2 separate regions of the Homo sapiens genome follow, and region 2 is linked to region 1. Evidence: fine-mapped expression QTL. A gene starts in region 1. The other region holds a variant in brackets. All regions are shown on one strand. Distances are from middle to middle.

The links. PIP is the estimated chance that this variant, and not a neighbour inherited with it, causes the effect. A credible set is the group of variants that fine-mapping cannot tell apart.
Region 2: its variant is the best candidate, but not a certain one, in a credible set for the expression of SANBR in tibial artery (GTEx, PIP 0.61).

The regions. Positions count from the first base shown.
Region 1 is chr2:61,063,343-61,067,740 of GRCh38, forward strand. SANBR (SANT and BTB domain regulator of CSR) reads left to right here and starts at 2,529. Exons shown (of 22, transcript NM_001129993.3): 1 at 2,529-2,685. RefSeq lists silencers at 2,309-2,678, 2,709-3,058, 3,069-3,128 and enhancers at 2,418-2,919, 2,920-3,419.
Region 2 is chr2:61,118,608-61,123,005 of GRCh38, forward strand. It overlaps SANBR (SANT and BTB domain regulator of CSR), which reads left to right. Exons shown (of 22, transcript NM_001129993.3): 21 at 2,578-2,669; 22 at 3,519-4,398. The coding sequence ends at 3,555. Among named protein-coding and RNA genes, the nearest start is that of C2orf74-DT, 24 kb to the right of the region's middle. The variant T/C (reference allele first, on the strand shown) is at 2,338.

The sequences.
Region 1 (4,398 bases):
CTTTCCTCAGAGCTATATATGGGCTTGATGATCTGCCTTCCAAGTTAATATGGGTGACATTTTTCCCCAATACATTTGGGAACAGTCACTAGCCTTCTGGCCTGCAATATGTTTCCACCTGCTAACCAATGCCATATATATCTTAGATCTTTGTTATGGTAGGTGGCACACCACTTTCAGGAACCAACTTTCTCTTCTAGGGAATACACTAAGCCACTGTAACAAAGAGACTAAAAAATACAGTAGTTAAGATAAACATTTTTCTCTCATGGAACAGACCAGAGGTACTCTGCTTCAGAAGGTAATTCAGGGCCCAGGTTCCTGCTATATTGTGTTCTACAGTCCCTTATGTGTTATTCTTTGTTTGTCGTTTTTGAGATGGAATCTCGCTCTGTAGCCCAGGCTGGAGTGCAGTGGCACCATCTCGGCTCACTGCAACCTCTGCCTCTCAGGTTCAAGTGATTTTCCCCCATCAGCCTTGGAGTAGCTGGTATTACAGGCACCCGCCACCACGCCTGACTAATATTTGTATTTTTAGTAGACATGAGGTTTCACCAGTCTGGTCTCGAACTCCTAACCTCAAGTGATCCTCCTGCCTCAGCCTCCCAAAGTTCTGGGATTACAGCGTGAGCTAACTATGCCCAGCCCCTTATGCATTATTCTTGTTTTCATGGTTGTAAAGTACCACCATCACAACTAAGTACCAGCCTATATGAAAGAAGAAAGAGGGGAAGTAGAGGGCAAGCAGTTTCTGTTTAAGAATTTACCTGGCTGGGGCTGGGTGTGGTGGCTCACACCTGTAATCCCAGCACTTTGGGAGGCTGAGGTGGGCAGATCACCTGAGGTCAGGAGTTCAAGACCAGCCTGGCTAACATGGTGAAACCCCATTTCTACTAAAAACACAAAAATTAGCCGGGTGTGGTGGCACACGCCTGTAATCCCAGCTACTCGGGAGGCTGAGGCAGGAGAATCACTTGAACCAGGGAGGCGGAGGTTGCAGTGAGCCAAGATCGCGCCATTGCACTCCAGCCTGGGTGACAAGACCGAAACTCTGTCTCCAAAAAAAAAATAATAATAATTTACCTGGCTGGGCATGGTGGCTCACGCCTGTAATCCCAGCACTTTGGGAGGCCGAGGCGGGCAGATCACCTGAGGTCAGGAGTTCAAGACCAACATGGTGAAACCCCATCTCTACTAAAAATACAAAAAATTAGCTGGACATGGTGGCATGCGCCTGTAAATCCCAGTTACTCAGGAGGCTGTGGTAGGAGAATCGCTTGAAGGGAGGTGGAGGTTGCAGTGAGCCCAGACGGTGCCACTGCACTCCAGCCTGGGCAACAGAGCAAGACTCCATCTCAAAAAAATAAAAAAAGAATTTACCTGACTTAACCTAACATCTTATGATACGACACTTGCCTAACTTTATTTTTATTTTTATTTTTGACAGGGTCTCACTCTGTTGCCCAGCTTGGAGTGCAGTGGTGCAAACATAGCTCATTGGGGCCACCACGCCCAGCTAACTTAAAAAAAAAACAACTTTTTTTTTTTTTTGGTAGAGACAGGGTTTCACTTTGTTGTTCAGGCTGTGCTCAAGCAATCCTCTCGTCTTGGTCTCCCTAAATGCTGGGATTATGGGATTACAGGTGTGAGCCACCGCACCCAGCCACTTTAATGTCTTTGTGGAACAAAAATCGTAAAAGATCTGCAGAAAGTCACAGGATGATACAATTGGTAAAAACTCCTGACATTCTGTACAGTGAACCACTTAATCTCTACTTAATCATCAGATCTCGTAGTAATTATTCATTTGGTTAAGGCTTTACTTTTTCTGTTCTTTCTAATCCTAACATTTAATTTTGGTTCTCAGAATAGACCAAGTGGAAATTAGATAGAAATGTTGACATGTAGCAGTTACCCTACAATATTGAGCCGTTTGCATTTTACTAGATGCCCAATAGTAGTGTTCCTCACAATAACACACACACACACACACACACACACACACACACACCCTATTAATGTATGAAAACCGAATTTGTAATCCAGAGCTATTTACATTTTTAAAGAGCTACCTCCTGGTAAAGACACTTCAGGTCCTTACCCAAAGACCTTGGTCTAAAAGATACTTTCGGTGTCCCTCATCATGCGATCTTTCCGCTCTACCTAAGCGGTGTACCAAATGATCTGCACCAAGAACAATTTCATCCATTCTTTAATCTTTTATCTCCTGTATATCCCCCTTTCTTCTGGACTCAGGGTTGGTCACCTAAGATCAGGCTCCTAGGATCTGGTTGCTAAGAGACAAGACGCTGGGAGGGTGGGGACGCTGCACTGCGACAAGCCTGGGAGTGTATGCCAGAGGAGGAAGGAGAAGCAGCAGGCAAGGCAAGGCGACAGTCAGCCGCCGCCGCCCCTCCGGTGCCCTCCCGCCCGGCAGGGGCTCGGCGCTCATTGGCTCCGCCGCTGCGGCGCTGGCCCGCGATTGGCCGGGCGGCGTCGGCTCGGCGGCTCCCCCACCCCTCGGCGCTAGTCTCCGCAGCCGCCTGCAAGCGGGCGGGGGCGGGGTGTGAGGCGCTGCGGACGGGGTTGCGGGCTCGGTAGCGGCAGCTTCAGGGCGCGAGCGCGGGCGGTGCCGACCACTGCAGGTAACAGAGGCGCTGCGAGGGCAGCCGCGGCCCTGTGGAGGTGAGCGAGACGCCGAGGGGGCTCGGGTGCCCACCGCGGGGCGGGAAGTGCGGCATGGGGCGGTACCGCTCACAGCCAGCCGGCTCCCGCCGCGGCTTCCCACCCCGGGCGGGGTCCCACTTGCCCAAACGCCCCCGAACGCCCCCGTGCACAGCCTCAGCCGGCCGCGCCTCGAGCAGCCAGCTGGCCCGCGTCCCGTCACCCGCCCGGTCCATGTCCCTGCAGACCGTCCCGCCCGCGCACAGCGGCGGGAACCCCAGCTTCTGCGCGCCCGGCCGCGCCCCGGGCCTCTGCCCCGCCTCGCTCCCGCTGCCCGGCGCCTTTGTCCGCTCTGCGCCCCTGGAGTTTCTGTGCCTCCACGGGCGGGAGCGGGGCGCGAAGGTCTGGGGGTGCCCCGAGGACGCGCCGCGTAGTGAGCCTCCGGGCCCAAGGTTTGACTGGCTTTGACCTCATGCCGGTTCTGGGATGTGATTTTACTTTCTCCTCCAGCTGACTCCGATCTCCTGTGTGTGCAGAAGTCAGGAAGCCTGGGTACAAGGCTTCTTCCCGGTCCGGGATGACTCGGTGTTACCGCCGCCCTCTGTTAGGCCAGAGGCCTTTGACCTGCCTGCCTGCCTGCCCCACGGGGCCCCCTCTCTTCCCATCTTTCCACTGGCTAAGGGAAAACGTCTCTGTCTCCAAGAGCTTTTTTTTCTATTTGAAATAAGAAAAAAATATATCAGATTCCTGTTGTAGACCTCTATCTGGTGTGGAAGTGACTTAGACTAGTCTTCTTAATTAATACATGTATATTAAATACATAAACCAAGAGAAGGGGGTCGGGGAGGGGAGGGGAAGTATGTTCTTAAAAAATGAAGTCTGTTAAACATATTGGATTTTTATTTTTGGTAAATAACGTATTTTACCTTAAATATTGTCAAGATTTTGATATTTTATGAATGGGAGTGGATTTCATAGTAATTTGAACTTTGAGCTTTTTCTTGTCACCGTTTTTGATAAATTTATACTTTCCTGAATGAGGTGCACTATAACAGCTATTTCGAGATAATTTATGTTTTATTAAGGATTATCCATCAATGCTATGCCTTTTATACTTAAATTCAGACTCTGATTTCTTGGACATTCATTTAACTAGAATTAATGCTGGGGGGTCTTCCCTTGCCTAGTACAGTTGTATAAAGAGAAAGTCAACAGAAAAACTTTTTTCTCATTTGGATGATTTAAAGTACTCTTAAACATGTATAGCATAAATTAGTATCACATTTGAAATGTAAGCTTTTAAGTGTTTGACGTGGGTAATATTTTTGAACTTTTAAATGAATCTTTTTGGAAGTGAAGAGAAATGAGCTCTCAGGGAAGATCCTTGCCCTGAATTCCATTTTAGATTGCTTTCTACCAAGGCCCAAACAAATTATAATAAAACGCCCTGGCCGGGTGCAGTGGCTCACGCCTGTAATCCCAGCACTTTGGGAGGCCGAGACGGGCGGATCACGAGGTCAGGAGATCGAGACTATCCTGGCCAACATGGTGAAACCCTGTCTCTACTAAAAATACAAAAATTAGCTGGGCGTGGTGGTGCGTGCCTGTAGTCCCAGCTACTCGGGAGGCTGAGGCAGGAGAATCGCTTGAACCCGGGAGGCGGAGGTTGCAGTGAGCCGAGATCGCGCCACTGCACTCTGGCCTGATGAGAGAGGGAGCGCCACTCCGTCTTAA
Region 2 (4,398 bases), 55 kb after region 1:
GAGACTTGCAGTGGTGCCATCTCGGCTCACTGCAACCTCCACCTCCCAGGTTCAAGTGATTCTCCTGCCTCAGCCTCCCAAGTAGCTGGGACTACAGGCATGCACCACCATGCCCGGCTAATTTTTTCATTTTTAGTAGAGACGGGGTTTCACCATGTTGGCCAGGCTGGTCTTGAGCTTTTGACCTCGTGATCTGCCCGCCTCAGCCTCCTAAAGTACTGGGATTATAGGCGTGAGCCACAATGCCTGGCCACATTTATGTATTTTTTTATATTCTGTATCAGTTAGCCTGTTTATTCACGTAAAAGTTTTCCACCATGTCTTATTATCCATGGTCCATAGGTCATCTATAACACATATAATAAAGTACATCATTGCTGAAAATGTGTCATCACACCAAGAGTAGGTTAACTGTGCGTTGTTGACCAAATGCTAACTATCCAGCAGGCGACTGTCTGAAAGTACCAATTTTCATCAACTCTGCATGTAGTGCTTAGATGTCATCTCTAAAATAAGATGTCATCTTGCTGAAAATGGTGACAAGAAACACCTATATTCTTGCTAGAATTACATTTTAGTCATGACATTATGTATTATCATTAGTATTGGTATTATGTAAGTACCATACTCTTGCCCTAATTCTTTTATTTAAAAATTTACTTCCCTATAAAACTTCTAAAAGGAAACATAGGAGAAAATATTTGTGACCTTAGGAAAATATTTCTTAGCCTACAACACCAAAAGCATGATCCATAAATGAAAAATTGGACTTCATCAGCATTTAAAATTTCTACTTTTCAAAAGACACTATTTAGACAATGAAAAGACAAGCCATAAACTATGAGAAAATATGTGTAAAACACCTGATAAGGAATGTGTATCCAGAATCTATAAAGAACTCTCAAAACTCAATAATAAAATTTAAAAACCTAATAAAAATAAATGGGCAAAAGAGTAAACAGACACCATGAAAAAAAGGATTTCCATGCCAGATAAGCATATATCATTAGATGTGCTAAGATACAACATCATTAGTCCTTAGGGAAATGTAAATTAAAACCTAAATGAGGCCGGATACAGTGGCTCACACCTGTAATCCCAGCACTTTGGGAGGCCAAGGTGGAAGGATCACTTGAACCCACGAGTTTGAGACCAGCCTGGGCGACATGATGAAACCCTATCTCTACAAAAAAAAGTAACAAAAATTAGCCAGGTATGGTGGTGGATGCCTGTAGTCCCAGCTACTAGCGAGACTGAAGTAGGAGGATCGCTTGAGCCTGGGAGGCAGAAGTTGCAATGAGCCAAGAGCACGCCACTACACTCCTGCCTGGGCAACAGAACGAGACCCTGTCTCCAAAGGGAAAAACCCATACCAAGTGCTGATGAGGATGTGGAGCAACTGGAACTCTCATATATAGCTAGTAGAAATGCAAAAAGGAATGGTCACTTTGGAAAATAGTTTGGCAATTTCTTATAGACATTCCCTCACCATACAGATCAATTCACACATTTTTATAATAGCTTTATTCATAATTGCTAAAAACTAGAAATACTATAAATGATGTCCTTTACCTGGTAAATGGGAAAACAAACTGCATATAAAAAGAACATTGGACCGGGTGCAGTGGCTCACACCTGTAATCCCAGCACTTTGGGAGGCCAAGGCGGGCGGATCACAAAGTCAAGAGATCAAGACCATCTGGCCAACATGGTGAAACCCCGTCTCCACTAAAAATACAAAAATTAGCTGGGCGTGGTGGTGCAGGCCTGTAATCCCATCTACTCAGGAGGCTGAGGCAGGAGAATCACTTGAACCCGGAAGGTTGAGGTTGCAGTGAGCCAAGATCGTGCCACTGCACTCTAGCCTGGGCAACACAGAGCGATACTCCATCTCAAAAAGAACATTGAGCCCAGGAATTCAAGACCAGCCTGGGCAACATAGGGAGATTCTGTTTCTACAAAAAATAAGAAATTAATTGGGCATGGTGGTGCACACCTGTGAGGTCTCAGCTCCTCTGGAGGCTGAGGTAGGAGGATCACCCAGGAGGTCAGGGCTGCAGTAAGCCTTGATCGCACCACTGCACTCCAGCCTGGCTGACAGAGTGAGATGCTGTCTCCAAAAAAAAGGAACAAACTTCTGATGTATGCATCAATATGGATGAATCTCCTATATGTGAAAGAAGCTAGATTCAAGTGGCTACATGTTATATGATTCTACTTATATAATGTTCTGGAAAATGCAAAACTATGGGGATAGAAAACAGACAAATAGTTGCCAGAAATTGGTAGTGGTAGGTAGATCGACTTGACAGGGGAACAAGGGAATTTTCTTGGGGG[T/C]GATAGGACTATTTTCTGTGTCTTCATTGTGACAGTAGTTATAAAACTGTATGCATTTGTCAAAACCCACACCTGTACACTAAAATGGTACATTTTTCTTTATGTAAATTAAACCTCAAAAAGACTGGATTTAAAAAATCAAAATAAAATTACTTCTAAATTAAAAAGTAATCCCATTTTAATAAAGCAGAGCTTCTATTGATTCTGTGAAGATAACAGTATTGCTTCTTTATTCTGCAGTTTGCAGGAGGTATTTATTCCAGGCTGGAAGCACAAATCAAGGCCTCAGTGCCAGTTAGTGCACGCCAAAGCAGCTCAGAGAAAAACACAAGGTAAATCAGCATAAACTAAACCAGAGTGTCAGTGGCTTTGAAGTGAATTTTTTTTTTAAGATAAATCATATGAACACTAGAAACATATCATTTGAGTTTGGTTTTATGTTTTGTTTCAATGATTATATTATCAAGGCACTAATTAGAAACAGATTTTAACTTAAAAGATAAAATCTAATGAAAATATAGCTTTGTGGATTTTTTAAAGTTTTCTGCTTGTTGGACTAGCTTCATTCTGAGCCAACTCCTGATAAAAATGTAAGCTATAGTGCTACTGGAAGTAGCAGAATTTTTGTACTGTTTGTAGATCACATATTAATACTTTATATAAATCACTGTAATCTTTACCACTCCTTGCTTTATATTTTATTTCTCTTAATAAAATCTAACTGATGGGTCTTATGTCATTTTACATCACAAATTTTCTGTTAGAGATTAACAGTTACTGAGATTTGAACATTAATATTACAGATTCTAATTCCTTATTTATGATTCTGAAATCCAGAAAGTTCAAAAAGCTGAAAGTGTTTTCATACATTTGTAGCAATTCAAACTTGCACTGAGCTGCTGTGATACCATTTATATTTTTTATTCATCCCACTTATATTTGATTATGGGGCACTGCTCCAGATCCATTATATACAATGTACATAACGTATTATCTCTGAGAAGTAACAAATCTCAATTCCAAAAATACATCTCCTGTTAAGAGTTTTAGAAAATGGATTACGGAGCTGCAAGAAGATTTATTAAACCTTGATGTTGCCAAGCCAACATAATCTAAAGGAGCACCAACTTCCTATTGTTTTAGAAGCAATTCTGACCTCCTTTTCTGTTTAAAAAATCTAGGTCTAAAAGTCGTTTTGGTCAAGGGCGTCCTGCATAAAGTACCTTAAAATATAAGTAAAAAGAGAGAAGGCACTCTTCTGGACATCTGAAATTGCTCACTTCTTGAAGATCTTCAGAACAATGACTTCCAACTGTTTTATGTTATTATTATTTTAATCCACATAAATCATAATTCTAAAAGAAATGCATAGTTAGGTTTTATGAAAATCTAATTGTAAATATGAAACTTTTTAAATCTGATTTTCTTCTAATATCATTCTAGGCTATGTAGAAAGCAATTATTTACAAATTTGCATAGTTGAGACTCCCAGTGTTTTCCTTTATTTATTTGAAAAAGAAAGGCCTAAACTGTCAGGTAGCCAAGTTTTTTTAAGACCTTAAAAGTTAGGGGAACACAACTGGTAGTGTTACCATGCATGGCACTGATTGTAGTATGTCTTTGGAGCTGTAAATCTTGAGATAGCATTGAGAACTGCAGGTTGTGTGACGAAATTCCCAATGATGCTAATTTTAAGTCTGCATGAATATTAAGGAGTGACAGGTCTCAAGACTGCATTAAATGAAGTTTCAGGGTAAGGTATTTCAGTACTGTGTTGGGCAGAAGGGTTAATTTTTTTCAGCATTATATCGTGGAAAGTACAATGTTAATCCAACTTTTTTTTCTTTCAGTTTTTAATGCTTATCTATTGATCATCTGAGCTGGAATTACTGATTATTACTCTGTCCTCTGTGAAACTAGTGGCATTCTGAATTTGGTAAAATAACCATTGATAGTTTTAGGATAGTAAATCATTTCTGTTATATGAGACACCCACTGTACAGTTCTCAGGGCTCTAAAACCCAACCATATTTCTGTAACCATTCAAATAACTCCTTAAAA